Homo sapiens: one gene and its partners. The protein of the gene in region 1 interacts with the protein of each later gene in a pairwise test. Each region holds a gene or a part of one and is shown in the gene's direction. Other genes may lie near its edges.

Region 1 (7,687 bases):
GCGCGTGCCACCACGTCCAGCTAATCTCTGTATTTTTATTTTTATTATTTATTTATTTGTTTGTTTATCTTTGAGAGGGAGTCTCGCTCTGTCACCCAGGCTGGAGTGCAGTGGCTTGATCTCAGGTTACTGCAACTTCTGCCTCCTGGGTTCAAGCGATTCTCCTGCCTCAGCTTCCCGAATAGCTGGGTTATAGGCATCTGCCACTACACTCGGCTAATTTTTGTATTATAGTAGAGATGAGGTTTCACCAATGTTGGCCAGGCTCGTCTCAAACTCCTGACCTTGAATGATCCACCCACCTCAGCTTCCCAAAGTACTGGGATTACAGGTGTGAGCTACCGCGTGCCTGACTAATCTTTATATTTTTAGTAGAGATGGGGTCCCACCATGTTAGTCAGGCTGGTCTCGAACTCTTGACCTCAAGCGATCCACCTACCCACCTTGGCCTCCCAAAGTGCTGGGATTATAGGCATGAGCCACCACGCCTGGCCCCTCTCTCTTACTGGGGTCTTGAATCTGTTTCTCTCTGCTTCTGTTCTTTGTTTCCCCCATCTGTTGCTCTGCCTCCATCTCACTGCCTGTCTCCCTGTCTTTCTCTGCAGCTCAGAGTAGTGTCTGGACCCTATGAGCCCCCTCCCTCCCCACTGCCCTTTTGTTTGAGCCCTGATGGTTCAAGGTCACGTGCCCAGCCGTTTCTATCCCATTCCCCACCACCTGTATTCATACTTCCAGCCACAGGTTGTGGGGTTCAGGTAGTGGGATGCAGGATTTGAGCATGACCATTTCTCAAGCTCTTCTGATGTGCCTGGCATACTGGTAAACACTTTAGGTGCTTTTTTTTTTAAATTTTTTATTTTTTTGTGATGGAGTGTCACTCTGTCCTCCAGGCTGGAGTGTAGTGGTGCAATCTCGGCTCGCTGCAACCTCCGCCCCCGGGTTTCAAGCGATTCTCCTGCCTCAGCCTCCCAAGTAGTTGCGATTACAGGCACCTGCCACCGTGCCCGGCTAATTTTTGTATTTTTGTTAGAGATGGGGTTTCACCATCTTGGCCAGGCTTATCTTGAACTCCCGACCTTGTGATCCACCCGCCTCGGCCTCTCAAAGTGCTGGGATTACAGGCATGAGCCACTGTGCTGGGCTTTTTTTTTTTTTTTTTTTTGAGACGGAGTCTTGCTCTGTTTCCCAGGCTGGACTGCAATGACGTGATCTCAGCTCACTGCAACCTCTGCCTCCCAGGTTCAAGTGATTCTCCTGCATCAGCCTCCCGGGTAGCTGGGATTACAGGGATATGCCACCACACCCAGCTAAATTTTTTATTTTTAGTAGAGATGGGGTTTCACCATGTTGGCCAGGCTGGTCTCGAACTCCTGACCTCAGGTGAGCCGCCCGCCTCAGCCTCTCAAAGTGCTGGGACTATAGGCGTGAGCCGCCATGCCTGGCCTTTTTTTTTTTTTTTTTTTTTTGAGACAGAGTCTCACATGATCTCAGCTCACTGCAACCTCCGCCCCCTCCAGGTTCAAGCGATTCTTCTGCCTCAGCCTCCCAAGTAGCTGGGACTACAGGCATGCACCACCATGTCTGGCTAATTTTTTGTATTTTAATAGAGATGGGATTTCACCATATTGGCCAGGCTGGTCTTGAACTCCTGACCTCATGATCCGCCTGCTTTGGCCTCCCAAAGTGCTGGGATCAGTCTTTCTGATTTTTATGTGAGAACACTGATTCAGACAGGTTGTGATCTGGCCCATGGTAAACACAGCTTGGAGATGGCACATACAGGCCCCGAGGGACCAGAGAGGCCCCTAGGAAAGGGACTTCAGATTCCCACGAAGCCCAGGGTTGGTCCCAAGCTCAGCTGGGCTTTCCCTACCTCACCCCACAGCACCCAACCCATGAGTGCCAGATCCATCATGAGCCCCCTCTGAGATGCTCAGGGAGGCCCCCTCCAAGGCACAGTGTGTGCCAGGATGTCATTCTCTGCTCCCACCTCACCAGTGAGGAGGTGGGGTTATGTCCCTACTTTTGAATCCCATGCTGAATAACAGCTAGAATTTGAACCCAGGTCACTCAGAGATGTGAGCCGCCATGCCCAGCCACCTGTGCCAAATTCTTAAACCACTGAAATATGCATTGTCAAAGAACCCAAAACTCCCAGGTCCTTCTATATTAAATGGCCCTGGCCGAGCACTTTGAGTGCCAAGGCTGCCAACTAATTTCTATGCAGTAGAGACCCCTGATGACCTCCAAATGGCAACAGTGGGACGGGTGAGGTGGCTCATACCTGTAATCCCAGCACTTTGGGCGGCCGAGGCAGGCAGATCACCTGAGGTCAGAAGTTTGAAACTAGCCTGGCCAACATGGTGAAACCTCATTTCTACTAAAAATGCAAAAATTAGCCGGGCGTGGTGGTGGGTGCCTGTAAGCTACTCAGGAGGAGGCTAAGGCAGGAGAAGTGCTTGAACCCAGGAGGTGGAGGTTGCAGTGAGCCAAGGTCACGCCACTACACTCCAGCCTGGGCAACAGAGTAAGATTTCTGTCTAAAAAAAAAAAAAAAAAAAAAAGGCAACTCTGTCTCAGGCGCTCTGAGCTGGCTGTTCACATCAGCTCCTCCAGGTTTTAACCTGCACCCCGTGGGTCTCCTTCGAGACCATTTCCTCTTGTCGATCTCCCGTCTCCACCAAGTGGCTTCAAATTTTTGTCTCTGCTGGTCCCTGAAGCTTTCAGTGCCCACCCCTCCAAGTTCTCTGAAGGATACTACTTTGTTGGGGTTGGGGGCAGGTTTTGCTCTCTCACCCAGGCTGGAGTGCAGTGGCACAAACACAGCTCACTGTAGCCTCGACCTCCTGAGCCCAACTTATCCTCCCGCCTCAGCCTCCCAAGTAGCTGGGACCATGACCAGCTAATTTAGCTATTTTTTTAATTTTTATTTTTGTAGAGATGGGGTCTCACTATGTTCCCCAGACTGGTCTTGAACTCCTGGGCTCAAGTAATCTCCCACCTCAGACTCCCAAAGTGTTGGGATCATAGGTGTCAGCCACTGCACCCAGCCTGAAGGCCACTACTGTTCAGGCCTCCTGGGCAGTGCTGTGCTTGTGGGTGACCTTTTGAACAGGCACTGGTCTCCGTGGCTCCCATGCAATCTATTACTTTCTGTCATTGGAGCCAAGTGTCGGTTTCCTTCATCAGAGAGCTTTCCCTATTGTCCAGACACTCGGTCAATGTCTTTCATTTTTCACTCCCTGCCGTCCCCTTTGGAGTCTCCCGACGCTCTCCAATCCAGCCATACCAGATGGTGTTTGAATTTCCTCCCCAGCAGCAATGGAGAGAACGTGGGCCCCACCCTGGAAGGGCTCCCAGCCAGCAGGCTGAGGACCTTTTACTGAGCCCACATCTGGAGACTGTCCTCATAGCAAATAGGCTCCAGGAGGTTCTGTGACTTTGGAGAAGAGATTCATGTCCAGGCCATTACTTTTTTTTTTTTTTTTTTTTTTTGAGACCTGGTCTCCGTCAACCAGGCTGCAGTGCAGTGGTGCAATCATGGCTCACTGCAGCCTCAAATTCCCAGGCCCAAGTGATCCTCCCACTTCAGCCTCTCAAGTCCCAAATAGCTGGGACCACAGGCGTGCACCACCACGGGGTCTCACTATGTTGCCCAAGCTGGTCTCAAACTCCCGTGCTCAAGTGATCCTCCCGCCTCTGCCGCCCAAAGTGCTAGGATTACAGGCATGAGCCACCGCCCAGTTCCTTTTCTTGTGCACTAGGAGCCTTCGATGCTGTGTCCTAAGGACTAGAAACAAAGATGTGAGGATTCGCTCTGATTTGGGGTACACTGCAGGGGAGTCTCTCAGTAAACATCCTTCCTTCATTCGGTAACCACGTGGTAGCATTTTCTATGCCCAGAACTGTAATCTGCGAAGATGAATAAACAAGCGAGGTCACTCTTCAGCTGGACCTTGAAAGGTGACTGGAATTGATTTCTGCAGTGGAGAAAAGCGCTGCGTTCTGACCTCCTCGTTGCCATCAACCACGCACGCCTGCGCCCCGCCTTAGCCAGGTGAACGGGGCGTGGAAAGCTCTAGAGGAAGAGCCAGGGGCCCCAGTGGCCCACCTGATGGGGCTGAGGATGCAGGGAGCATTAGGGGGACTGAGCAGGGGTCTGGGGCTTGGGGCTTCTGGAAATGAATGGGGGCTGTCGATCAAGCTATAAGAGGTGTGGGGTTCTGAGGAGGAGGGGGTGGCTTGGAGGAAGAGTTGGGGTGCTCTGGGGAGTGAGGGTCTCTGAGGACCGAGGGCTTTGAGGAGAAGGGGGCCCTGAGGAGGAGCAGGAACTCTGAGGAGATGCGAGTGGGGCTGAAGGAGGCGTGCACCGCGCGAGATGTGAGGGATGGGGGCCTCTGGCTGGAGCGGAGCCAGCGCTGCCCTCTCTCAAGGGGAAGGAGGGCGCTTATGAGAAGTGCCGTTGCCTCGGCAACCCCAAACCCAGTCCAAGCCCGGAGAGGGGGAAGTTCGGGGCGAGTCCCGGGGGCGGTGCGTGGCGCCGGTTGGCTGACGGAGATGAAGGGGCGTGTCTGTAGGCGGTGCAATACACGGGTTGGCTGGCGATAGCGGCGGTGGGCGTGGCTTAGGCGCGAGCGAGAGCGGGCGCGGCGCTCAGGCAGCGGCGGTTGGCTGCGGCGCCAGTGGTAGTGCTCCAGGCTCGACGGCACCCTCACAGCGCCCGCCCGGCCCTGCCGCTCATGGCCGCCCCGCCGCGCCCCGCGCCATCGCCCCCCGCCCCGCGGCGCCTCGACACGAGCGACGTCCTGCAGCAGATCATGGCCATCACCGACCAGAGCCTGGACGAGGCACAGGCCAGGTGCTGCCCGCGGGCTCGGCAGGGGCCACGCAGGGTCGTGGCAGTGAGGTTGGCGGGCTGAGGGGACGGGGCGTGGAGGCCAGACTGACGAGGGGCGCTTGAGGAGGGCTGGAGGGGGGTCCCGAGGACGAAGGGATGTATGGGGTTCAAACGGAACGGGCTGGATAGGCCTTATGGGGCCGAGCAGTGGCGTGAAGGATTTTCAGCAGCTCATCTTGGGGCGAGAAGGTTGGGTTTAGGGGTTTAGGGAGTAGGGCTGAGAAATGGGCACGTACGGGACTTTTGACGAGTGAATGACTAAATGGGTACGTTAATGGGACTCCTGCGGCTGGAAGTTTTTTTGTTGTTGTTTGACACGGTCTTGCTCTGTCGCCCAGGCTGGAGTGCAGTGGCGTGATCATGGCTCACTGCAGCATCCACCTCCCCGGCTCAGTTGATTCTCCTGCCTCAGCCTCCCGAGTAGCTGGGACCACAGGCGCACGTGCAACCACGCCCGGCTGATTTTTTTGTATATTTTGTAGAGACAGGGGTCTCGCTATAGTTGCTTAAACTCCTGGGTTCAAGCACTCATTCCGTCTCGGCCTCCCTAAGTGCTGGGATTACAGGCGCGAGCCACCGAGCCCGGCCTGTGGGTGGGAAGTTTCCAGGGCAGATGATGGAGAGTGAGTGGCTGGGAATGGGACTCAGGAATGTCTGCAGGAGACTGAAGAACTGAACTGGGGTAACTTGGTGTGGGAACCATCGAGAACTTTTGGGAAAAGGGTTAGTAGAGGAGTGGGTGGAGATGGAAGACCTATTTTCTTTTTAATGAATTCAGCAAATTTTTATTGAATCCTTACAATAACTGGATAGGGAACCGGGTGCTGACATAGTCCCTGCTCTCGAGTACATGATTTAGGGGAGGGAATGTAAATAGCAAAAAATAAGGACTGGGTGGAGTGGCTCACATCTCTAATCACAGCACTTTAGGAGGCTGAGGCAGGAGGATTGCTTGAGCTCAGGAGTTCGAGACCAACCTGGACAATGTAGTAAGACCTCGTCTCTACTAAAAATAAAATTAAAAAATTAGTTAGGTGTGATGATGCAAGCCTGTAGTCCCAGCTACTTAGGAGGCTGAGGCTGCAGTGAGCCGAATCAAGCCATTGCACTCCAGCCTGGGTGACAGAGCTAGACCCTGTCTCAAACAAAAGCAAAAAAGTATAAGCCAGGCATGGTAGCATGGGTAGGTAATCCCAGCTGCCTCCCAGTGGGAGGATCACTTGAGTCCAGCAGTTTGAGACCAGCCTGGGCAACATAGTGAGACCATCCTGTACCAATCTGAGAAAAGAAAAAAATAAAATAAATGGCAATAAAAGCTGTAGGGATAGGGGTTGCATGCTATAGGAAGCCAGGTGGAGAAGAACATCTTTGGAGAGGACAGCACCTTCAGAGGCCCTGAGGTGGGAAAGAGGATGTAAAAAGCGGAGTCTGGCTGGGAAGAGAAAGTTCCTAGCCAGGGAGGGAAAGAGTTGAGTTTAAAGGAAGGCTGGGGCCAGGTGCGGTGGCTCACGCCTGTAATCCCAGCACTTTGGGAGGCCAAGGCAGGTGAATCACGAGGTCAGGAGTTCAATACCAGCCTGGCCAACATGGTGAAACCCAGTCTCTACCAAAAATACAAAAATTAGCTGGGTGTAGTGGTGCACACCTATAATCCCAACTACTTGGGAGGCTGAGGCAGGAGAATCACTGGAACCTGGGAGGCGGAGGCTGCAGTGAGCCGAGATCACACCACTGCACTCCAGCCTGGGCGACAGAGCGAGATTCCGTCTGAACAAAAAATAATAATAATAATAAAGGGAGACTGGAACCCAATTACATGGGGCCTACGAATCTCAGTAAAGAGTTTTGTTTGTTCAGCCAGGCACAGTGGCTGACACCTGTAATCCCTGCACTTTGGGAGGCCAAGGTGGGCAGATCACCTGAGGTCAAGAGTTCGAGACCAGCCTGGCCAACATGGCAAAACCCCATCTCTACTAAAAATACGAAAATTAGCTGGGCGTGGTGGTGCATGTCTATGGTCCCAGCTACTTGGGAGGCTGAGGCAGGAGAAACACTTGAATCCAGGAGGTGCCTGGGTTCAAGCGCCACTGCATTCCAACCTGGGCGACAGAGTGAGACTCTGTCTCCATAAAAAAATAGTTTTGTTTTTGTCATCTGGATAACAATCAATAGGGAGTTCGGACTATTTATTCCAGTTGCAATGGGGAAAAATAAAGGAGTTTTTAGACCTCCCATCCCGTTTACCTCCACTCACCACTTGTCAGCCAGCCAGGATCCGTAGAATCTGCTTCACAAGGCAGCCCACTGTGTCTGGGTCCTGCAGTGATTATTACAGAAAAGGAAAGGAAAGGACTGAAGTCCTTTTGGAGGATGAGGCCTTGTTGAATGGGGACTGTTGTAAGGTGAGGGACGGTCTCTGGGTATGGGACTAGGGTCTGGTGGTGTGGACTGTGTACCCACTAGAGCCCTGTAGTGGGGAGGGGTTACAAAGCCAGGTAAACAGCAGTCCTAGGAAGGAAGAGGCAGATAAAAAGGTGGATAATGCATGCATTTGTTCTTCAATGAATTGTGTGTGTGTGTGTGTGACGGACTCTCACTCTGTTGCCCAGGCTGGAGTGCAGTGGCGCTATCTCGGCTCACTGCAACCTCTGCCTCCCGGGTTCAAGCGATTCTCCTGCCTCAGCTTCCTGAGTAGCCGGGACTACAGGCATACGCCCCATGCGTGGCTAGTTTTGTATTTTTAGTAGAGATGGGGTTTCACCGTGTTGGCCAGGCTGGTCACAAATTCCT
Region 2 (7,021 bases), on another chromosome or scaffold:
TTAGCTGAAAGGTTGAGTGAGTGAATGGATGGCAACATTAATCAAGATAAGAAATACTGAAACATGCATAAGAAGTAAAATAGTTTTGTTTTAAATATACTGAGTATCATAGGCCAATTGTATAAGCAAGAGGAGATTTCTTGAAGGCAGTTGGATAAGTGAGTCTAAAACTCAGAAGAGAATTTTGAGAAAGGGGTCTAGATTTGGAAGTCATGAGCGTTTAAGTGTCATCAAGGGAGCAAAATGAAAAGAAAAGATGATAAAATACATCAACATTAAAAATACCAACAAAACAACAACCATAGTGATAAAAGAAACAAAAATCATATTTAAAGTCTTCTCATCCTTCTGACTGAGAGAGGGCAAGATCTTTAATACTAATGGCAAACCCTAGGTGCAGCATTTTTAGTGACTTTGTCTCCTCCTCCTCACAACCTTGTATAAGGGTTTACTTGTCTGTTCTTCAGTTTCTTCATATTTAAAATGGAGAAATCCTAATCCTAGCTCTAGCCCTTTTCCTGTTTCATGAAGCTGTTGAGAAGATATCACTGAGTAATATTTAAAGCAGCTGGAGCCTATTTTAGTGAGCTACATAATTTTTTAAGGACATTATTGATTTGGACAGTAAGAATAGCCTGCAGGCAAATCCTGCAAGGTGCTTCAACAGACACACACGTCTACCTTCCTGTTGGCACAGCCCATGTTTGGCAGGTGTATTCCATTCCTTACAGGAAGGAATAGGTGCTTCATTGTGTTACAGAAGTCAGTAAGCTTTCACAAAACTAAGTAATTGACATCTTTCTCATTTCTGAGATCAGGTTTTCATAAATCATTCGACCTGGATAAATTGAGATTGTAGTTGATGTGGTAATTGTTGAAATACAATGAGGACATTGCAAAACATGATATTTAACTATTTCCTCCTAATCTCTTACCTTAACAACATATAAGAGTTCTAAATGGAAAGATGTCCTAATGTAGAAAAAGGAAACAAAAGTAAGATGAGCCTGTCTGTAAAGGAGAAGCCAGAAGAAGCACAACACAGATTCATCTCAGTAATTTGGGATTCCACTGATTCTGAATTTGTAGTAACAATAATAATAACTAGACAACATAGAGCTGACTTTTATATTGTGAAAAAGGTTTTATCACTAGTTAGTAGTATAAATTATATTATGGAGAAGGGATACATTTAGCCAGTTTGCAAGTAATATTTTCTGGCTTTTAACAATATATGCAAAGCAATGCTACTAATATCTTATAATGATTTCTGCTGGGAGCTATTTAATGGTTATTTCAAGTTACTATCAGATTTTAACAATAAACTTAAAATTTCATAGTGTAGTTCTATAATTCATACTCACATTTTTCTTTCCCCTCATTGCACAACTCAAGTTAATTAAACATTGCCTTAAAGGATTCATGTAGTGCTATGAGTCATAATATTCAGAGTGTGTAAGTTAGCACTAGTTTTTAACCACTAGGGAAGGTTCAAGTATTGCAGACTAATCTGAGAATACAGTGAATTTTCTAATGACTCTTCTAGTTCAGGTATTTGTACCACTAGACTGTTTTAGTGGATATACAACATTTATGTATAGTTTGCATTTTAGAAAAGTTTGTAGTAATAAACTTAGACAAGATTTGCCTTTTTACTCTAAGATCATTACTGTGTTCTTAAAGCAAAGTTTTTTGATGCACTGAATAATTTTGTTTTATTTTCCTGTTTTTTGTTAACAGAATTCTTGATAGATACAAAATCATCCAATAAACTTCAGCTAGTTTTCAGCATTATATGCAGTTGATTTGTCCATTCCTCAGTGGAACTTCCAAATCATCTAAACCAGCTTTGTATGACACTAAGAATACCCTCATTCCTTCAGTGTCTAGCTCTGTGCTGTGTTTATTTGCAGAGGACCCTCATGCATGGATCCATATAAATGAGGCAAACTGTGAAGCAGACTAGACTGTGCCGCTTACCGTAAAGTCTTTGAGAGAGGAAGATTGTGTATATGAAAACTGCTAGGCATGATATTTACTTATAAGGAAGATTTCTATGTGTATAACATCAAGCAAGATTTTTGGTTGAGGTTTTATGCTTTCAGTAAAGAAAATAAAAGAAGAAAACCAATTAATGGTCTGATTCTATCATCTTTTGTCAAGCATCTCTTACTGATCTACATGAATGTGACCTCCCGCTCATAGAGTAGTCTAAGAACACTGCAGAATGGACTTGTGAACTTTCGACTCTCTTTTCAATTTAATTGACTAGTTTTTAGTCAACTAAAAAAATCATTTTCTTTGACTAAAATGTCTATGTAGGTAATTTCTAGTGCATCTATGCTACTCAGAAATAGAAACGTGTTTTTTTAATTAGAACAAAAAGTCTGGTTTTATTAGTATCAAATCATTGTGTATTTTTAAATTATTTCCATGCTACTGTAACTTGAAATGTTTCCCACCTAACCACTATTTCTGGCTTTATGTTTATCAGCTGATTCTATGAAAAGATGGGAATTTAGTACATAGAAGTTACACAGTATACCAACCAATGAATCACTTATCTAAGTAACAGGTGAAACATTGCTGATATTTGTGTTTTGAAATATGTGCTTTTCTTAGGTAAAATCAGTTTATTCTACATTTAATATGTGATCCTGTCATTGCATAGTAAATGATTCATTCACAACCTTAATGCAAGTAGCTAAATGTATTGAAATAAGTGTCCTATAAATTTTGTGTGGCATCTAATGCTGACATAATTCAAGGATCTGGGTTAAAGTTTGTGTCGTTGCTGGGTTTTTTAACCTCAAATACTTGGCACTCTGTAGCAGTGTCTCTCACAGTAATGCTTTGTTTCTTAACATGACCGTGAGGACTGCTTGGTCACAGGCAAATACTGTCCTTTATCAGCCAGGACATTCTTAACAATAATTGCCCTTTTTTTCCCCTTCTCACCCCCATCCCAACCCCAACTTAGGTTGGAAAGGCTGGTGGATGTACTGAGGAAGAAGGTTGGAACCGGGACCATGAGGACAGTGATCTGATTGAAAAAAAACGACAGTCTGGGGAAGCGATCACATCTGGTGACCAGGCTGCTTCATTCAACACTGTGTAAACACCAAAGCCTTAACTTAGCAAACAGTTGTTAGAAGTGGGACACTCCAACCACATTCCAAGCTGAGATAAAATCAAATCACAAATGTTTAACCACTTTGCTGCTGACTTGAGTTATTTATCCAAATATATTAACTATAGACTTTTACCAATGGGTAGCTATAAGGTTACAGCTTATTTTGTAACTATTTTATATCTCAATATCTTTAATATAAATCTTTTTACTGAGAGATCATTATAGAAACATGTTAAAGTTGGTTAGGATCATATCTTCACATATGGCCCTTTCTGAATCAAAGTGCGGCAAAGTAAATATTGTCTAAGCTTTAATCCACTGTGTTAGGTCAAAACTTCAAATACATGCATTTTTCAATATAGGGTATATTTCTTAACTGATGAGAGAGGCTTAGACATGAGTGTGTAGTCTTCCTTCAATGCGTGTATGTAATCTTTGTTAGTATAAAAGATATTAAATATAGGTGCCAAGAATTAAATGTATAATTTGTTTAATAAGAGATGGATATATTAAAATTACATTCATCAAGGCATGATTTTTGTTTCACTACAAATAATGCAAACTGTTTTCAATAAAAAGAGGAGACTGTTAATGTGTACTTATAAATTCACATTGTCAGTATTTTTTAATATTGGGTCTGAATAATTATCTGAATTCTACTTAAGCTATAAGTCTCTGTCATTTTTGCTTGAAAATTAGCATGCCTCTGTCTTAAAAGAGACCATCAAACCTATTAAGTATTCTTATTGTTTATCTTTTTTTAATTGCCATTTGATTTTTATTGTGGAGGAGGAGGATCTAATATATAATATTCAATACAATTGTAATGTAGAAATATAAGAATTTAGAAAAAAGTAAACTTGCCATTTGGTTAAGGTTACCTGCTTTTTATTTTATTCCAGAAATAAGATAGTTACAGCATAGCAGTCATATGAAGTTATGAATAGAACTGAGATTTTTATGTAATTAGTTATAGGCAAAATACTTTCATATTTTTAGATTAGACAGACGAAAGACCAAGAGGAAATGACTGTGCCTGGAACAGGATGAAATAGACAAGTAGAGATTTAATTAGCAAAAATTTTGTAGGGAAGTAAAATTTTTTCTAAGTCTATACGTTTTTAATTCATCTTTAAGATTGAGCTAAATTATCTACCATTGCCTATTTACAGGATAAGTACATTCAGGACAATTTATTGTACCATTCTTTCATATACCATAGCAGATTATCCATTTCAATTTTTTTTTACTCCACAGGAAAATGTAAGCTACTTTGTCATAGATCACAAAAGAATCATAATGCTAACAAACTCTATTTCTTCCTTATTAAATCTGTATCCATTAAAGTAACTTTTTTAACTATGAGAATTAGAAAATAAGGGACAACAGGGGTTAAAAATAAACTGATTTAATTTGCTCTATAGTCCTAAAGAGAATTATATCCTCTCATAGACCAATGACTCTATAATAGAGAAATATGTAATGATTTGGTCATGCATGGAGTCTTGTCTCTGGGCTCTATTTGAAACGTGTAACAGCTCCCTATGTGAAGAAACATTATCTTTAAAGTCATCTGGGAGGTGCAGGTAAGTAAAGAGAAACAATTTTTGTCACAAAGTAGTCCATTCCTGATCTCACTTAAAATAAATCACAAGTAAATTTGAATTTTCGGTTTAATGTTGAAAGCAGATGAACTTTTCTTGAGTTATTTTGTCTTTTAGAATACACAAAATATAGTATAAAGACATTTCACAATTTCCAAACAAATCTTTCTACGCTTAAATGATCAAATTAGAAAAACCAATTCCTATAATTAATATGCAGAACTTTTATAGAATATGATATTATAAAGTTAAATTTGCAAAATAATTCTAACATCCACTATTGTTCAGTATAGGTAATCTCCCAAAAATATCACATCCTCTTGAAAATGAATTGTCTACAAAATTTCAAATGCAAAGTATTACAGCCAAATATTATCTTAATTAATTTCTTACACTTAAAAGTGTCCATCAACAGTGTGTCAGATGGTCTTTATATATTTTTTCTGTATGAAGGAATAGCCTTGCCTACTGAAGATAGGTTCTCTATGTATTCAACAATAATGCAACTTTAGAAGTATTCCACACTGCTGAGAAATGTTGCTTTGAGTTTGCTTTACACATCATCAACTCTAAATCCTATAGTAACATGAGAATTCACTTCTTCTTGTAAAAATAAGTAATTTACAGGAAAGGCAAAATGCTAATACTAACATTTGTAGCACTTGATGATTTACAAAGTCCTTTTACATCTGTTTTTTCATTTGATCCTATCGACAATCATAATAATAATAAATTATATATATAACCCATATAATAACGATGGTGATGATAATTTTAGTATTACTGTCATTATAATTATTATTATATTCATTCTACAGATGAGGAAACAGACTCAGTAAGCCTTGGAATTTGCCAAGGACTGGCTAGGACCTAGAACTAAGATCTTATAACCACACTCCATGCAACTATGAGTCTCTAAATCTCTCTGTAAGAAAAAAATTTCAAAGTAAAGATTTTACTCTTGCAATTTCTGTTGTGATAGTACCATCTCTTTCACATACTACATACAAATTCCCTAATAATCAAAAGATTGTACACATTTTTTTCAATGAAGTACAATAATGTGAACTGCATGTGTAAACAGCATCACATTATTACCACCTCTCTATGGTATTATAGTGGCAGTATGCTTTGCCTCAGCCTTCACTAATTAGGAATATTGTGACAATTCATTGCTAATAAAACATAACATGAGTCTCTTTGTACTGTTTTTAATTTGGCCTGATGCTAAAACCTATCAGCTTAGTTTTTTAACATGGTAGTCTAAACTTCAAGGCTTGCTCTATCTCCTAGAGCAATTTAGAGCTAAAACCAGTAATAAGCAAAGTTATTGGTTATAAGCAAGGTATAAGCAGTTAAAGCAAAGTTATTAATTATTAATATATGAGAATTTAAAATTTTATAAATAAGTTAGAAATTATTAATGTATTTTAAATATGGAGTAAAATATTTTGCTAATTTTTTTCAATGATAAAGTTGATCCTTTGTATATTTCCTTATTCAAATAAATTCAGTCATCTTCTTATCAGGTTGCTTATTTATATAATTTGTTTATTTTATTAAAAATCTAGAATATTAAAGATTTATACTTTTAATATTGAATATAGTTTCGTAGAAAAACATTTTATATGTACTATTCTTAAAGATCACAATTATTTTTAAACTTTCTATTTTCAAATACTTGTGATTAATAAGGCATTCTATGATGAAATAGCCATGGCTTATATATTTTTGTCTTTTCACATATGATGTGTTTGGAACCCAAATTTTTTACTGATTTTATTGTGTTGTTGGTAACTAGTATTTACAGCTAACCTATCTATTCATATTTTACATATATATATATATATATACATGCACACACACCGATACATTTACCTTTTAAAAAAATGATTTATAAGTGAACTGTTAGGCTCCAGTGATTTCAGTGTTTTGTTCATGTTTTATTGGAAATGCACGTGGTTTCTTAGGCTTTTAAACAAATACATGGAATGGTTGAAAGATTTATTTTGCTCGTGCTTAGCTAAATATGTCATCTCTAGAAAAGATGTGGTTTGTTTTGGCACTGTTTTAAAAACTCAAATATTTTAAACATTTGTTAAGTTGGAGCTTGCACATTTAAACCAGCAGCATACGTTCCAGAAGAGCATCTCAAGTTACCAAATTTTTTGTAATCCTTTTACTAGAAAAATCTTTTTTGAAGAGTTTTTCTTGTGCTTGCTTCGGCAGCATATATACTGAAATTAGAAAAAGAAAACTTTTCTTTTTTATTATATATTTTAGT
Region 3 (7,959 bases), on another chromosome or scaffold:
CTAATCTAGTGGGGACTTGGAGAACTTTTGTGTCTAGCTAAAGGTTTGTAAATGCACCAATCAGCACCCTGTCAAAACGGACCAATCAGCTCTCTGTAAAATGGACCAATCAGCAGGATGTGGGTGGGGCCAGATAAGGGAATAAAAGCAGGCTGCCCCAGTCAGCAGTGGCAACCCACTCAGGTCCCCTTCCACGCTGTGGAAGCTTTGTTATTTCGCTCTTCACAATAAATCTTGCTGCTGCTCACTCTTTGGGTCCACCCTGCCTTTATGAGCTGTAACACTCACTGCGAAGGTCTGCAGCTTCACTCCTAAAGCCAGGGAGACCACGAACCCACCAGGAGGGATGAACAACTCCGGACGGGAGGAACGAACAACTCCAGACGTGCTGCCTTTAAGAGCTGTAACACTCGCCACCAACGTCTGCAGCTTCACTCCTGAAGTCAGCGAGACCACGAACCCACCAGAAGGAAGAAACTCCAGACGCATCTGAACATCTGAAGGCACAAACTCCGGACACACCATCTTTAAAAACTGTAACACTCACCGCGAGGGTCTGCAGCTTCATTCTTGAAGTCAGCGAGACCAAGAACCCACTAATTCTGGACACATTGCTAGGCTGTGGAAGTTCTGCTGGATAATATCCTGAGAGTGTTTTCCAACTTGGTTCCATTCTCCCTGTCACTTTTAGGTACACCAATCAAATGTAGGTTTGGTCTTTTCACATAGTCCCATATTTCTTGGAGGCTTTGTTCATTCCTTTTCATTCTTTTTTCTCTAATCTTGTCTTCACACTTTATTTCATTAAGTTAATCTTCAATGTCTGATATGCTTTCTTCTGCTTGATCAATTCGGCTATTGATATTTGTGTATGATTCACAAAGTTCTTGCTCTGTGTTTTTCAGGTCCATCAGGTCATTTATGTTCTTCTCTAAACTGATTATTCTAGTTGTCAATTCCTCTAACCTTTTTTCAAGGTTCTTAGCTTCCTTGCATTGGGTTAGAACATGCTTTTTTAGCTCGGAGGAGTTTATTATGACCCACCTTCTGAAGCCTACTTCTGTCAATTTGTCAAACTCATTCTCCATCCAGTTTTGTTCTCTTGCTGGGGAGTTGTGATCCTTTGGAGAAGAAAAGGTGTTCTGGTTTTTGGAAGTTTCAGCTTTTTTGCCCTGGCTTTTCCTCATCTTCATGGATTTATCTATTATTGGTCTTTGATGTTGGTGACCTTCAGATGGGGTTTTTGTGTGGATGTCCTTTTTGTTGATGTTGATGCTATTCCTTTCTGTTTGTTTTCTTCTAACAGTCAGGCCCCTGTGCTGCAGGTCTGCTGGAGTTTGCTGGAGGTCCACTCCAGACCCTGTTTGCCTGGGTATCACCAGCAGAGGCTGCAGAACAGCAAATATTGCCGCCTCTTCCTTCTTCTGGAAGCTTCGTTCCAGAGGGGCACCCACCACATGCCAGCCGGAGCTCTCCTGTATGAAGTGTCTATAAATCCCTCCTTGGAGGTGTCTCCCAGTCAGGAGGCATGGTGGTCAGGGACCCACTTGAGGAGGCAGTCTGTCCCTTAGCAGAGCTCGAGCATTGTGCTGGGAGATCCATTGCTCTCTTCAGATCCAGTAGGCAGGAACGTTTAAGTCCGCTGTATCTGCGCCCACAGCCACCCCTTCCCCCAAGTGCTCGGTCCCAGGTACATGGAGTTTTATCTATAAGCCCCTGACTGGGGCTGCTGCCTTTCTTTCAGAGATGCCCTGCTCAGAGAGGAGGAATCTAAAGAGGCAGTCTGGCTACAGCAGCTTTACCGAGCTGGGGTAGGGTCCGCCCAGTTGAAACTTCCCTGCAGCTTTGTTGACACTGTGAGGGGAAAGCCACCTACTCAACCCTCTTAATGGTGGACACCCTTCTGCCCACCAAGCTGGAGCATCCCAGGTCGACTTCAAACTGCTGTGCTGGCAGTGAGAATTTCAAGCCAGTGGATCTTCGCTTGCTGAGCTCCATGGAGGTGGGATCTGCTGAGCTAGACTACTTGGCTCCCTGGCTTCAGCCACCTTTCCAGGGGAGTGAACGGTTCTGTCTCGCTAGCATTCCAGGCGCCACTGGGGTATGAAAAAAAAAACTCCTGCAGCTAGCTTGGTGTCTGCCCAAACGGCTGCCCAGTTTTGTGCTTGAAACCCAGGGCCCTGGTGGCATAGGCACCCGAGGGAATTTCCTGGTCTGCAGATTGCAAAGACCATGTGAAAAGCATAGTATCTGAGCCAGAGTGCACTGTTCCTCACAGCACAGTCCCTCACAGCTTCCATTGGCTAGGGGTGGGAGTTCCCTGACCGCTTGTACTTCCCAGCTGAGGTGACACCCCACCCTCCTTTGGCTTGCCCTCTGTAGCCTGCACCCACTGCCTAACCAGTCTCAGTGAGATGAGCCAGGTACCTCACTTGGAAATGCAGAAATCACCTGCCTTCTGCATTGATCTCGCTGGGAGCTGCAGACCGGAGCTGTTCCTATTTGGCCATCTTGCCAGCCACTCCCTTTAATTGTTTATTATTCATTTGGGTTGAAAATATAATTACTGAAGTTTTCAATAGGAGTTATTCTATAAAGTACGTTGTAATCTTTCAATAGAAATATGCACTAAATGTTTTCTTAACATTTGGATTAATTTTCCTTGGATAGTGATATACCCATTGAAACATTTTTGGTAAACAAATTTAGAAAACAATTTTAAAAGGTAGTAAGATGATTGAAAGCTGTTATTTTCAAAAATTGTAATCAGTTTCTGACTTACTGTGTTTGATGTGGCATATGCCTTTTGGTTTTCTGTTTGTTTTGTTTTCCATAACATGATATGACAGGGTGTTATTCTCACTGTTGATTGCAGGCAAGAGTACAAAAAATTATTAGAAGTTAGCTTGTGAGCATTTAATAAATGGAATTGTTGAACTATAGACAATGTCTGGGGTTCACTAAAAATGTATACCTTAATAAGAATCTTCTTTTGATTTGTTAATGTTTAGATGACAGTCATGAGAATGCAATAAATGCCTTGTGTCTGGAGGTCAGCGGGGTATCTTTCTAGGCCTTTCTTGTTTTTATGGTGTATAAAATAAAGTTATGTGAGCTTGATGAACACTGGAACAAAATTCCAGGGTCTACTTCTCGTTTGTCTTATTTTTAGATTTTTTTTTTCATTATCAGGTTTTGTGACTTCTTATAGAGAATGAGACAAGTGTCAGTCAACCTGTGGGAGAAATCCTGGGCCATGCCTTCTCTATTTTCAGTCCTCTTTCTTACTGTCTTTTAAAATATTTTTAGATTTTTATTTTGAAACAATTATAAATTCACAAGAAGTTTCAAAGATACGTACATGGAGGCCTTTTGTACCCTTCAACCAGTCTCTCCCAATAGTAAAATCTTCAATACACTACCACATTACACTATCAAAACTAGAACATTGACAGTGATGCAATCCAGAGCTTTTTAAGATTCAACACTTTTCTTTTGACTATTCTAGGCACTTTATATTTCCATAGGAATATTATAATTATCTTGTCAATTTCTATTAAAAAGGCTTTTTAGAATTTTGATTAGAATTTAGTTGAATCCACAGATGAAATTGGAAATAACTGCCATTTTACAATATTGAATCTTCCAACCGAAAATCAAAGTATAGATCTCAATTTTTTTCTTATGTCATTAATTTATCATTGTAAATTTTTGTAGTTTTAAGTGTACAAGTCATTTACATCTTTGGTCAGATTTATCCCTAAGCCTTTAATATTTTTAGTGATATTTTAAATTGCACTGTTCTTAGTTTCAACTTTCAGTTGTTGAAATTAACTTCCAGTCCACCCTAGGACTACCATTGGCTAAAACATTGTCTCTTCTAATATAGAAACTTCTCATATGTAACTGCTAATATATAAACATACAATTGATTTGTGTGTTGATCTCTTACTTTGCAATTTTGCTAACCTCAATTAATGTAGAACCATTTTTTTAGATTGACTTTTCTACATATACTCTCAGGTAGTCTTTGACAAAAGATACTTTTACTTCTCCCTTTCCAATCTGAATGCATTTTTTTTTCTTTTACACTGGACACAATCTCCAGTACAAAGTATAACTGTGCCCATACTGGTGCACATGTGGGTCTTAGATTGTAGCATCCTGCAGGTAAATACTCAGAACAACTTCCAGCACTTGAATATCCACTCCTTCCCCCACCCACATACTGGCAGAATTCATGTTGGGATACTACATTTACTATGAACATAGACCCCTGATTTGAAACAAGACTAGGATACATGGTAAAGAAAGTTTATTCACCAAAGTTTTGACAGACTGAAGGCCATTATTTCAGATTGGAGATAGGAAACTTAAAAGAACTACATGGACATTGGGTAAAAGAACATGGGTTGAAATTTGCCTGGCAGTAGCCTAAAAGTAAATGGTCTTCAAGGTGCATGTGAAGGAACTGTAGGAGGGAAATGGGATAATTCACATCTCCACCAATAATTAAATGTAGCCACACTAGCTTGGAGGGATTTGAGGTGAGACATCTAAAATACTAAGTCATGGTGAGGGCTGGAAGACAAAAGAATGAATGACTTCATAGGAATGACTGTGGGGAAGGGCTTGAAGGAATCATCCTCTCACTTCCATGTGAACCATGAACATTAAACATGGAGAAATGAGCAGCAGCAGATTAGTTTGGGATGCATCTTCAGGGGATGCTGAAACAACAACAGCATTTGGTTTCCTCTACACCCCTGTCATCCGTCCCCCACAAGCCCAGGGAGTGGTCAGCAGTGGTGCTTTGTGATGTCTAAGCCACCCTAGGACTGCCATTGGCTGGGACACTGCCTGTATGATCAAACAAAGCTCAAGAGTGTGGCTTTGCCTTGCCACCAGGAAGGTATACATAGGGAGGGCCAGAGCTCTGGGACATCCTCCTGGCAAGCTTCAATATAGCTGTGGAAGTCTGCAGTCTACAAGAGCCTACTATAGACATTCTACAACCAAGCAGAATCATGGAACAGCCGACTTCAAGCACCAATGGGGAGAAGAGGAAGAGCCCCTGTGAATCCAATAACAAAAAAAATGATGAGGTAAGATTGTTAGGTTTTGAAGGGAAGGTGAGGGTGAAAGAAAGACACACAGAGAAGGGACGGCTCAAACAGCAACACAGGAATACTGCAGACACCTGTGGAAGTGGGGGACCCGCTTAATGCCAGAACCCACCGCCGCTTACAGGCTGGGGTGCTTATAGGTATGGGTGGGAGGGGCCGGGGCAGTATGGCTTGCTGCCCGGCAGGATATTGATAAGATGTTTTTATGATCAGGCTGTTTGGTCCTTTTTCCAGTGGGATGTCATTGTGGTGTTTCTTGGAACTTTGCCCAGCAAGATACCATAGGAAAGTTTCTTTAGTTGGACCTGTGTCCGCCTTGTGTTACGACGATTAGGCAAGATTTTTCTCATGGCCCGAACCCCCGTGGAATGTTTCACTTTGATCAAGGTCTGCAAAATAGCAGGGTGCTTACTAAATGGTGGTTTGGACTCACATTCTTGCCTTCTACTTTAGTATAAAAGGAAGAGGGGCATTGTTGATTATCTGGCTGCTTGCTGCCGAATAGGGGAGCTGTAATCAGGGTTTGGGTTTTGAAGCAGGGGGTGACGGACTTCAGAGTTGTTTTCCTGGAGGCACTGGTACCGGACTTGGCAGAGGAGAAGGATGGTATCAATGTGTTGCTGGGTGGCTGCCTGGAGAGGGGAGTTTAGCCTTCGGGAGATAAAGCAGGATATGAAGGTGAGTATACATCGGCCAAATGTACTATCAGGAGGAGGAAGATTAACGGCCCTAAGAAAGGGACCACCTGCTATCCCAGTGCTGAGTGCATCAGAGATGTTTAGTTCTGCTAACACTAGAATGAGATGTACAGCCTGCTTAGTGTGTGTGGAGGAAGATGAGACAGAAGCTACTAAAGGAACCTGGATGGTCTGCTTGTTAGGCAAAGTGTTAATGTTTAGATTGAAACACAAGGGTGCATGTTCCTGACCAATTGGCCAGTAGGCAGAGATAAGAGTTTGTGCCGCAAAGGAAGAAGACACTAGGGGTGGACAGACAAAAGTTGTAGGTTATGGTGGCAAGTCATGAGAAGGTGGGGGTTGAATTCTGCACAAACCCTTTGTTTTAACTTTTATGTTTTTCCAAGTTGAATACCTGCCAGCAAGGGTAGCCCCTCTGAAGGCCTGATAGGAAATGTTGGTAGTGGAGGAGGTGAAGGCTGTTTGGTTTTGGAGAGAGAGCAGGAAATGGGTTTTTGTAACTAATAGCCATTGCGGTCCTGACAGCGCAGAAGGATACAGGTTGCAGTTGAGGGAATTGTTTGTGGATATTTTCCAGGGAGCGCCCTTGACTTGGATACATGGAGAGCGGCTCCGGCAGAAAGGGGAGGGGTTGATAAGAGGTATTTTCTGGAATCCGACTGGTAACATGTTTAGTTAAGAGGCTATGAGGTGAAGGAGGGTGACAGCCCTGTGTGTGACGGTGTGGGTGGATTTGATGGATTGGTGGGGGGGGAAAGGTGATTAGCCGAGCAAGATTATAAGCAGGTTTTGCGAATGAATTGGTCAATTAGGTGAAATGCAGGTTTATTTTGGACAGGGTTCATGTGGCCAGGTTAACAGGAAGGGCTGTGAACTACTGGATTTGTGTGGACAAACAAATTTAACAGTTGGAAGGAAGAGGGGAGTGTGACTGATTTAAGAGGCAGTGAGGCTGATGAAGGGGGCTCATCTGTTAGACGTTCGGGGTGGGGACTTAGAATATCCCACAGATAGAGAGGACAAAAGGAGAAAGAGGAGATTTGAGTAGGAGTGAAATTTTGGAAGGTGCCCTGAAGTCATATCTCCTTGATTAGTGTGACAAATTGGCCTGGACTATTCAGGGTCATGGGGAAGGGAAACCAGGAAAGATCTGAAATAAAGTAGGAGACAAAAGATTGGAAACTGGAGACAGAGAGTGTTATGGACTAAGGTGTTCTGGATTGGCAACTTCTGGAATTCTTGTTAAGTACAGTGAGGTTGGTCTTGTCAGGGAAGGAGAATAATTTGGGGGTGAACAAATTTCTAGATGTGGATCTGGTGCTCTTTTTAGTTTGAAATGTGCATTCAGTGTGCAAAGGATGTTAGCTTTGGCGCTGTGGGAGTAGTTAGCATCACCTGGTGAGAATTCCTCCACTTAGGTTGGAGAGCGGGGGAGGAGGAGTCTGTGATTCAGACCCAGCCCGCTGGTTGTAGGGACAGGGAGGAGTGTTTTGAGGATGGACTTTTAGGCTGGGTCAAGTAAGCATTTGCGTACTGTCTTATTAGATGTTGGGTGAGGTGTAACGCCGGCCAAGTATTCCATATAGAATGGGGGGAAAATACAGGGAGATTCTGGAGGATAAATGGAGCATTTGTACATGAATTTAAATGGGCTTAGGCTGAGCGCTTTTAGGAAATGACTCATAATCGCATGAGGAACAATGGGAGAAGTGAAGTCCAGGCCATTTTAACCTTTAAGGAGAGTTTGGTTAGTTGTTGTTTTTTATAAAATTTTTCCTGAAGATTCGGAGTGGTAAGGAATATGGAAAGCCCATTTAATGTTTAGAGCCTTTACCAGCTGTTGGTTAAACTGAAACAAATTGGCCCATTGTCTGACTGGATGCAAGAGGGGAGTTTAAACCGGTGGATAATATGGGTGGAGAGAATAGAAGCGATGGTGTGTGCCTTTTTGGTGGTGGTAGGAAAAGCTTTTATTCATCCAGAGAATGTATCTACTATTGTTAGAATGTATAGGAATCACTTTCTGGGGAGCATGTGAGTGATGTTGATTTGCTAGTCCTGCCCTAGTAAGTGTCCTCAGGTCTGGTGTGTGGGAAAGGAGATGGTTTGATAGCTTCCTGAGGGGAAGTTTGAGT
Region 4 (7,021 bases), on another chromosome or scaffold:
GGCACACAGCAAGAAGGCCAGATCTTGACTCTTGGGTCACTGCTGGCCCTACTCGCTTTCCAAGGGCTCCTTGGAAGGAGATTGCCCTGTGGGGCCTGTGCTGGTGCCAGGAAGGGGCCCATGGAGGAGGTGCCGCTCCCTCAGGCCACTCAGCCCTTCCTCCAGCTCCAGGCCAGCAGAGGGGAGCTCCAGGCTCACTCAGTGGTGGCCTGAGGTTCTGTTCAGAGCTCCCCCATCCTGACACAGCCATCTGCCAGTCCCAGTGGGAGGAACGTGGACAACTCGCATTCCTCTCTGACTCTAGCATCCAAATCTGCAAAATGAGTTTATGCATCCTAACCTCTGAGGGTTCTGCGTGATCATAATAGGACTAGGTGCAGTGACTCAGTCTATAATCCCAGCACTTTGGGAGGTGGGTGGATCACTTGATCCCAGGTGTTCAAGAGCAGCTTGGACAACATGGTGAAACCCCATCTCTACAAAAAATAAAAAACAACCACCACAACAAAAAGTTAGCCAGGTGTGGTGGTGCCTGCCTGTAGTCCCAGCTACTTGGAAGGCTGAGGTGGGAGGATCACTTTTGAGCCTGAGGAAGTCGGGGTTATAATGAGCCGAGATCGAACCACTGCATTCCAGCCTGGACAATAGGGTGATACCCTGTCTCAAAGGAAAAAAAAAAATCATAATGTGAAAACACCGTGCGGGTAGAGTTATGAGAGTTTTTTTTGTTTGTTTGTTCGTTTGTTTTTGAGATGGAGTTTCACTCTTGTTGCCCAAGGTGGAGTGCAATGGCACAATCTTGGCTCACTGCAACCTCTGCCTCCCAGGTTCAAGCAATTCTCCTGCCTCAGCCTCCCAAGTAGCTGGGACTGCAGGCACCCGCCACCATGCCCGGCTAATTTTTTGTATCTTTAGTAGAGATGGGGTTTCACCATGTTGGCAAGGCTGGTCTCGAACTCCTGACCTCGCGATCCGCCTGCCTCGGCCTCCCAAAGTGCTGGGATTACAGGCGTGAGCCACTGCGCCTGGCAGAGAGTTTTAATCTAGAGATTGTCCCCTGCTTGTTCCTGTCCTGTCTGGCTAAGGTTCTGGAATCCCGGAGCTGAAGACCATGTTGGCGGGTGTGATCTTGGAGGACTACCTGGATATCAAGAACTTTGGGGCCAAGGTGGTGGGCCTCTCCTGCACCCTGGCCACCGGCAGCACCCTGTTCCTGGGCAAAGTGGTATGGTCAGGTGTGAGGGCACCCCAGCCACCCCGCCCACCCTACCCTGCCCCAGCTCTCCCCCATACCCCACCAAAGCTGGGTCAGAGCAGACTCAGGCCAGTGCCTGCCTTCAGGGAGCTCAGTCTTAGGGGAAGAGCCAGGCCAGGTCCCCAGTGTGACAAAAGCTACCTGAGGACAGCCCTGGGGGTTGGGGAGATGGAGGAGGGGGTGTGGTGGGGAAGCCGTGCTGCCTCGGGGTGAGACTGTCTCTGCTGCCCTCACCTGGGCCCACCCTTCCCTCTGCAGGGCCCTTTCGTGCACCTGTCTGTAATGATCGCTGCCTACCTGGGCCGTGTGCGCACCACGACCATCGGGGAGCCTGAGGTTAGGGACTCGGGGGCTTCCTTGGAGAAATGGGAGTGGGGAGGGAGGGGGCTGACTCTGAGCCCTGGACTCGGATCCCCCAGAACAAGAGCAAGCAAAACGAAATGCTGGTGGCAGCGGCGGCAGTGGGCGTGGCCACAGTCTTTGCAGCTCCCTTCAGCGGTGAGACCCCCCTCATGCCCCGCCCCCTGGGTCCCTCAAGCTCCTCCCCTCACACCCTGGGCTCCCTCGGCCCAGCTGAGAGCCTGGAGGAGGGGATGGGGCTCATTCTTGTTCTCACTTCAGCCCCGCTTTGGGTATAGCCACCCCCCGGGGGCGGCGGGGCGGGGCGGGTGGTTGGGGGCGTGGTTGGGCGGTGCTGAGAGGCTTCAGGATAACATTACACAGACTTGGGTTTGAAATCCACTGGCCCCTTGGCCTCTCTGAGCGCAGCTTCCTCCTCTGTAAAATGGGGATCAAACCGTTCCCACCCGATAGGGAGAGGGCGCACACCTGCATTCCAGGCTGGATGGATCCCTGGGCAGCGGGGTCCTCCCCGCCCAGGGCGCAAGCCCTGCCCTCCCCTTCTGTCTGTCCCTGTCCGGGCTGTAGGACAGCAGGACAGATGGCTCAGGGAGGAGGCGAGATGGGGGAGGGGGCCCTACAGCCACAGGTGGGTGGGGGTGGGGGCCCACCTGACATCAGTGTCGCCCCCAGGCGTCCTGTTCAGCATCGAGGTCATGTCTTCCCACTTCTCTGTCCGGGATTACTGGAGGGGCTTCTTTGCGGCCACCTGCGGGGCCTTCATATTCCGGCTCCTGGCAGTCTTCAACAGCGAGCAGGGTGAGCCCCCTGGGCTGCCTGACCCTGGCCCTGCCTGGGGGCCGGGGCGAGGGAGACCTCCCTTCTCCTCTGTGTACATCTCTTGCTCTTCCCTTCCCTCTCTCTCCCTCTTTTCCCTCCTCCGTGTTCCCACCTCCTTCAGGGAGGATGGAAGGGGCTGACCTGTGTTGAGCCCCTGACCTGTGTTGAGGGGCAAGGGGCCCTGAGGGTAGAAGGGATGAGGCTGGGCAGGGAGGCAAGAGCCTGGTTGTGGGGGCCTGGAATGCCAGGACACAGATTCCGAGTCAGGACCTGGCACCCCCTCCACCCTGGGCTGTTAGTCTGGGACTTGAGTTTGGGTCGGGTGGGAGCGCCATCTTGGCTCCCCACTGCCCTCCTTCCCCAGAGACCATCACCTCCCTCTACAAGACCAGTTTCCGGGTGGACGTTCCCTTCGACCTGCCTGAGATCTTCTTTTTTGTGGCGCTGGGGTGAGTGGGTGCCTTGGGCCCCTGAGAGTCCAAAAGGCATTCCCCCCAAGGCCTGGACTGCGGCCCCTGGTACTGGGGTCAGGCTCTGGTCTTACCTCCCTTCACCCCGCAGTGGCATCTGCGGCGTCCTGAGCTGTGCTTACCTCTTCTGTCAGCGAACCTTCCTCAGCTTCATCAAGACCAATCGGTACAGCTCCAAACTGCTGGCTACTAGGTAGGCTCTGGGCTAGGGGCTGGGGACATCTCAGTGAGTCCCTTGTGGACTCCAGACCTTATGTAGAAAGCCCCACCCCCATCCTCCCACTGAGCCCCTAAATCCCTCCCTAGCCCGTGGAGCATCTAACAACCCTCTCCAAGTCCCCACAGTCACTGTCCCCCCTTCCTTACTGGGCTACGAACCCCACATTGAACCCCCATCCCTCCTTCATTCTACAATCTCTCAGCGAAACCCCACCCCCTCACTGAGCCTCAAACCCTGTGCCCCTTCAAACCTTGTGTGGCCCCTGGCGTTGGCCTTGGCATTGGCCAGCCCTCCTGCCCCGGAGATGCACATGGCCCGCCCCGGCCCGGCCCACTGTCTCCTCCCTCCTAGCCTGCCTCTGCCCCAATTCTCCTCTCAATCTCCTGCGTGATTCCTCTGCCCTCAGTCATACCCAGTTGAGGGGCTCACCCCACGGGTTCTACCCGCTGGAGGGGGCCATGTTCCCTGCTCCCGCCCTTCCTCCTCACCAGTCCTTGCCTCGGTATCAGCCCCCAGGTGGGGAGCTCTGCTGCTGCCTGGACCAGGTCCTACTTCCCTCTCCTCGGGATGTAGGAAAGGGAGGGCCAGCCCTAGAGCTCACCCACCCCCCACAGCAAGCCTGTGTACTCCGCTCTGGCCACCTTGCTTCTCGCCTCCATCACCTACCCGCCTGGTGTGGGCCACTTCCTAGCTTCTCGGGTAAGGGGTCCTGAGCGGGGGTGGCAGGAGTGGGAACCCCCATTTGTTTTCCCCTTTGCATGTGTCTCACGTAATACCCTCAGCACCCCACCAGGGTGACACCTGGGCATCATTCTGCAGATAAGGAGACCATGGCTCTGGGAGGTCAGAGCCCTGCCCAAGGCCCCCCGCTGGGAAGTGGCAGGGGAGGATTCCAGGCGGGGTCAGGCGGTGCGGGGGAGGCTGGGGTCTGCCGCTGGGGGGGGCCCCTCATGTCCAGTTCCCACCTGCCCCGCCACAGCTGTCCATGAAGCAGCATCTGGACTCGCTGTTCGACAACCACTCCTGGGCGCTGATGACCCAGAACTCCAGCCCACCCTGGCCCGAGGAGCTCGACCCCCAGCACCTTTGGTGGGAATGGTACCACCCGCGGTTCACCATCTTTGGGACCCTTGCCTTCTTCCTGGTTATGAAGGTGGGCCCCCTGACCCCCAGGTGTGCACAGAGCCAGGACCAGCTCTGGTGGGGAGGGGCGGGGGTGCCTCCCTGCACCTGGTGGCATGGAGCCCAGGCCTCTCACCCACACTTCCTTCTGTGCCCCCTGCCCACTGCATGGTCCTGGATAAGTGGCTTCAGGTCTCTGGACCTCAGTCTTCCCATCTTTAAAATGGGGTGGTTACTGGGAAGGCAGAGAAGGAAGAAAGGAATGTACCTGGCACAGTGCCAGGCATACAGTGGGCATTTCTCAGGGTGAGGACCCTCCCCTAATGCCAGACTCTGGCAGTGGGTGCATGGCTGGCACCCTCTTTCTATCTAGGACACTCCCCTGTCCCCTGTCCTGTCTTCTCTTGTCCACACCTTGCCCAGCGGCCTCTAACCTCTGCCCTGGGCTCCCCCTTCCTGCAGTTCTGGATGCTGATTCTGGCCACCACCATCCCCATGCCTGCCGGGTACTTCATGCCCATCTTTATCCTTGGTGAGTCTGGGGTCCTGAGGTTCTGAGAGTTTTGGGGTTCTTGGGGCAGGGCCATGCATCCTGGTTCACCCTCTTCCCGGGTGGTACTAAGGATGGTCCTCAGGGATGGAGGGCTGTGGGGGCCGGGTCAGCCTGGCTCCCCCTCACCCTAAGTCTGTGGCCAGGAGCTGCCATCGGGCGCCTCTTGGGAGAGGCTCTTGCCGTCGCCTTCCCTGAGGGCATTGTGACTGGAGGGGTTACCAATCCCATCATGCCCGGGGGGTATGCTCTGGCAGGTGAGTGGGTCACGGCCCTGCTGGGTGGGCAATGTCGTGGGGCTGGGCTGGACCTGGAGAATTGGCTGGTGGTTCCCCAGGGCACGGAGCAGTCACTGAGTCCTCCAGTGAACCCCCTACCCCTCATGGGGGTCTGTCCCTCCTGAGCCCCACCATTCCCCGGGGCCCATCACTTCCTCGTGGCTCCTGTCCCCAGCCCTGCGGCCTCCCTTATCCCTCTCCTCTCACCAAGCCCAGGCCTTGGGGCACTTCCCACAGTGCCCAGGCTGTGGCCTCTTACAATTCCCACCCTAGCCCCCGGCAGCAGCCAGGCTAGTTATTCCCTCACATCAGGCTGGCCCCTGCCTCCTGGCCTGAGCCGACCTGTGTGGCTCTGCCCCGGCAGGGGCTGCAGCCTTCTCAGGGGCTGTGACCCACACCATCTCCACGGCGCTGCTGGCCTTTGAGCTGACCGGCCAGATAGTGCATGCACTGCCCGTGCTGATGGCGGTGCTGGCAGCCAACGCCATTGCACAGAGCTGCCAGCCCTCCTTCTATGATGGCACCATCATTGTCAAGAAGCTGCCATACCTGCCACGGATTCTGGGCCGCAACATCGGGTGAGTGGTGCCCACCTCAGGCTGACTGAAGGGGGTCACAGTGTTTGGGCTTGGCTGGGGGTGGAGGGCACCTCCAAAAAGAAACACCACCGCAGCTGACCTCCGACATGGGGGCTGGGAGGGGCTGACACACAGCTGTGCTCTCATCTCCACTCTCCCCAGTGCCCTGGGTGACCTTGGGCAAGTCCTTGGCCTTGAGGCCTCAGTGTCTGTCTAGGGGTCAGCTGGGCTTCACAGCAGGAGGATGAGTATTGCCCCGTGTACAGATTGAGGAAACCAGAGCTCAGAGAGGTGCCGTGTCTTGCTCCAGGTGACACAGAGAGTCAGCACCAGATCCGAGAGGTCTCCTCCCCTCTCCCCACTCCTGCTGTCCTTGCTGGGACTTTGGGAGCAGGAGGTGGAACGAGAATGGAAATGGGCTTTGAAGTCCTCACTCAACCAGATAGGACCAGAGCAGCTTCTGGCGCCAGAAAAGCAGACCAAAGAGGCTCTGAGAGTCCGAATCGGAGGCCCCGCTCCAAACACAAACAAGCTGCTGCCTTGCTCTGAACCTGTTTCCCCATCGGGAAAATGGGGCTGTTTATACCAGTGATTTTCAACCTTCCAAGTTTTTCCTTGGGGGTGACATACACTTTTATAATCAAATGGAATTATCCAGGGAAGGCTGCTGGGTCTGTACTCCAATCTCATTATTCATTAATGGATGGCCAGTCACTGACCACCTGGCAGATACTGGTTTTCCGTCATCTCACACTCAGCTCTGTCCAAGGTGGGACAAGACCCAAGTGAAGCTGGTCTGGGGGACATGGGGGACCAGGGGGTTGGGGATTTGGAACTGGGCCATCAGTAATGTGGTCCCCAGGTTTCCTCCCACTGTGGGTTCTAGGAGTCCCTCATTCCAGGAACCTCTCCAGCCCTGCTCACACTCCAGAGCCGTGGGTCCCTGGTTCAAGCAAAGCTCCCCTCAGATCCCCTTGCTGGCCTGGGTCTGACATCCCCGACTCCGGGACCTGATGGGAGCCCCTCTGCCTGCAGCTCCCACCATGTGAGGGTGGAGCACTTCATGAACCACAGCATCACCACACTGGCCAAGGACACGCCGCTGGAGGAGGTGGTCAAGGTTGTGACCTCCACAGACGTGACCGAGTATCCCCTGGTGGAGAGCACAGGTGCCCAGCTGGAAGGGAGGAGGAAGTCGGGGGTAGGGGATGCCCTCTGCCTCCTTCTTGAACCTGTCAGGCAGACAGGATCTGCATCCAGGCTCTGTGACTTAGCAACCAACCGTGTGACCTTGAGCAAGTCACTTCACCTGAGCCTCAGTTTCCTCATCAGCAAAATGGAAATCATGGCTACCCTCCCTTGGGGTGGT

Evidence for each region.
Region 2: the proteins of PBX4 (region 1) and MIPOL1 interact in binary tests that used the Homo sapiens proteins (3 or more experiments, as listed by UniProt).
Region 3: the proteins of PBX4 (region 1) and SPANXN2 interact in binary tests that used the Homo sapiens proteins (3 or more experiments, as listed by UniProt).
Region 4: the proteins of PBX4 (region 1) and CLCNKA interact in binary tests that used the Homo sapiens proteins (3 or more experiments, as listed by UniProt).

The regions. Positions count from the first base shown.
Region 1 is NC_000019.10:19,615,682-19,623,368, reverse strand, and holds the start of PBX4 (pre-B-cell leukemia transcription factor 4), read left to right. Parts: upstream 1-4,681; 5' UTR 4,682-4,739; coding exon 4,740-4,858; intron 4,859-7,687.
Region 2 is NC_000014.9:37,543,925-37,550,945, forward strand, and holds part of MIPOL1 (mirror-image polydactyly gene 1 protein), read left to right. Parts: intron 1-2,980; coding exon 2,981-3,047; 3' UTR 3,048-7,021.
Region 3 is NC_000023.11:143,717,737-143,725,695, reverse strand, and holds the start of SPANXN2 (sperm protein associated with the nucleus on the X chromosome N2), read left to right. Parts: upstream 1-4,943; 5' UTR 4,944-5,027; coding exon 5,028-5,105; intron 5,106-7,959.
Region 4 is NC_000001.11:16,025,023-16,032,043, forward strand, and holds part of CLCNKA (chloride channel protein ClC-Ka), read left to right. Parts: intron 1-1,085; coding exon 1,086-1,225; intron 1,226-1,513; coding exon 1,514-1,591; intron 1,592-1,674; coding exon 1,675-1,753; intron 1,754-2,287; coding exon 2,288-2,413; intron 2,414-2,798; coding exon 2,799-2,883; intron 2,884-2,995; coding exon 2,996-3,097; intron 3,098-3,738; coding exon 3,739-3,823; intron 3,824-4,103; coding exon 4,104-4,277; intron 4,278-4,708; coding exon 4,709-4,778; intron 4,779-4,942; coding exon 4,943-5,053; intron 5,054-5,438; coding exon 5,439-5,652; intron 5,653-6,687; coding exon 6,688-6,821; intron 6,822-7,021. UniProt on the Homo sapiens protein: Anion-selective channel permeable to small monovalent anions with ion selectivity for chloride > bromide > nitrate > iodide. Forms a homodimeric channel where each subunit has its own ion conduction pathway.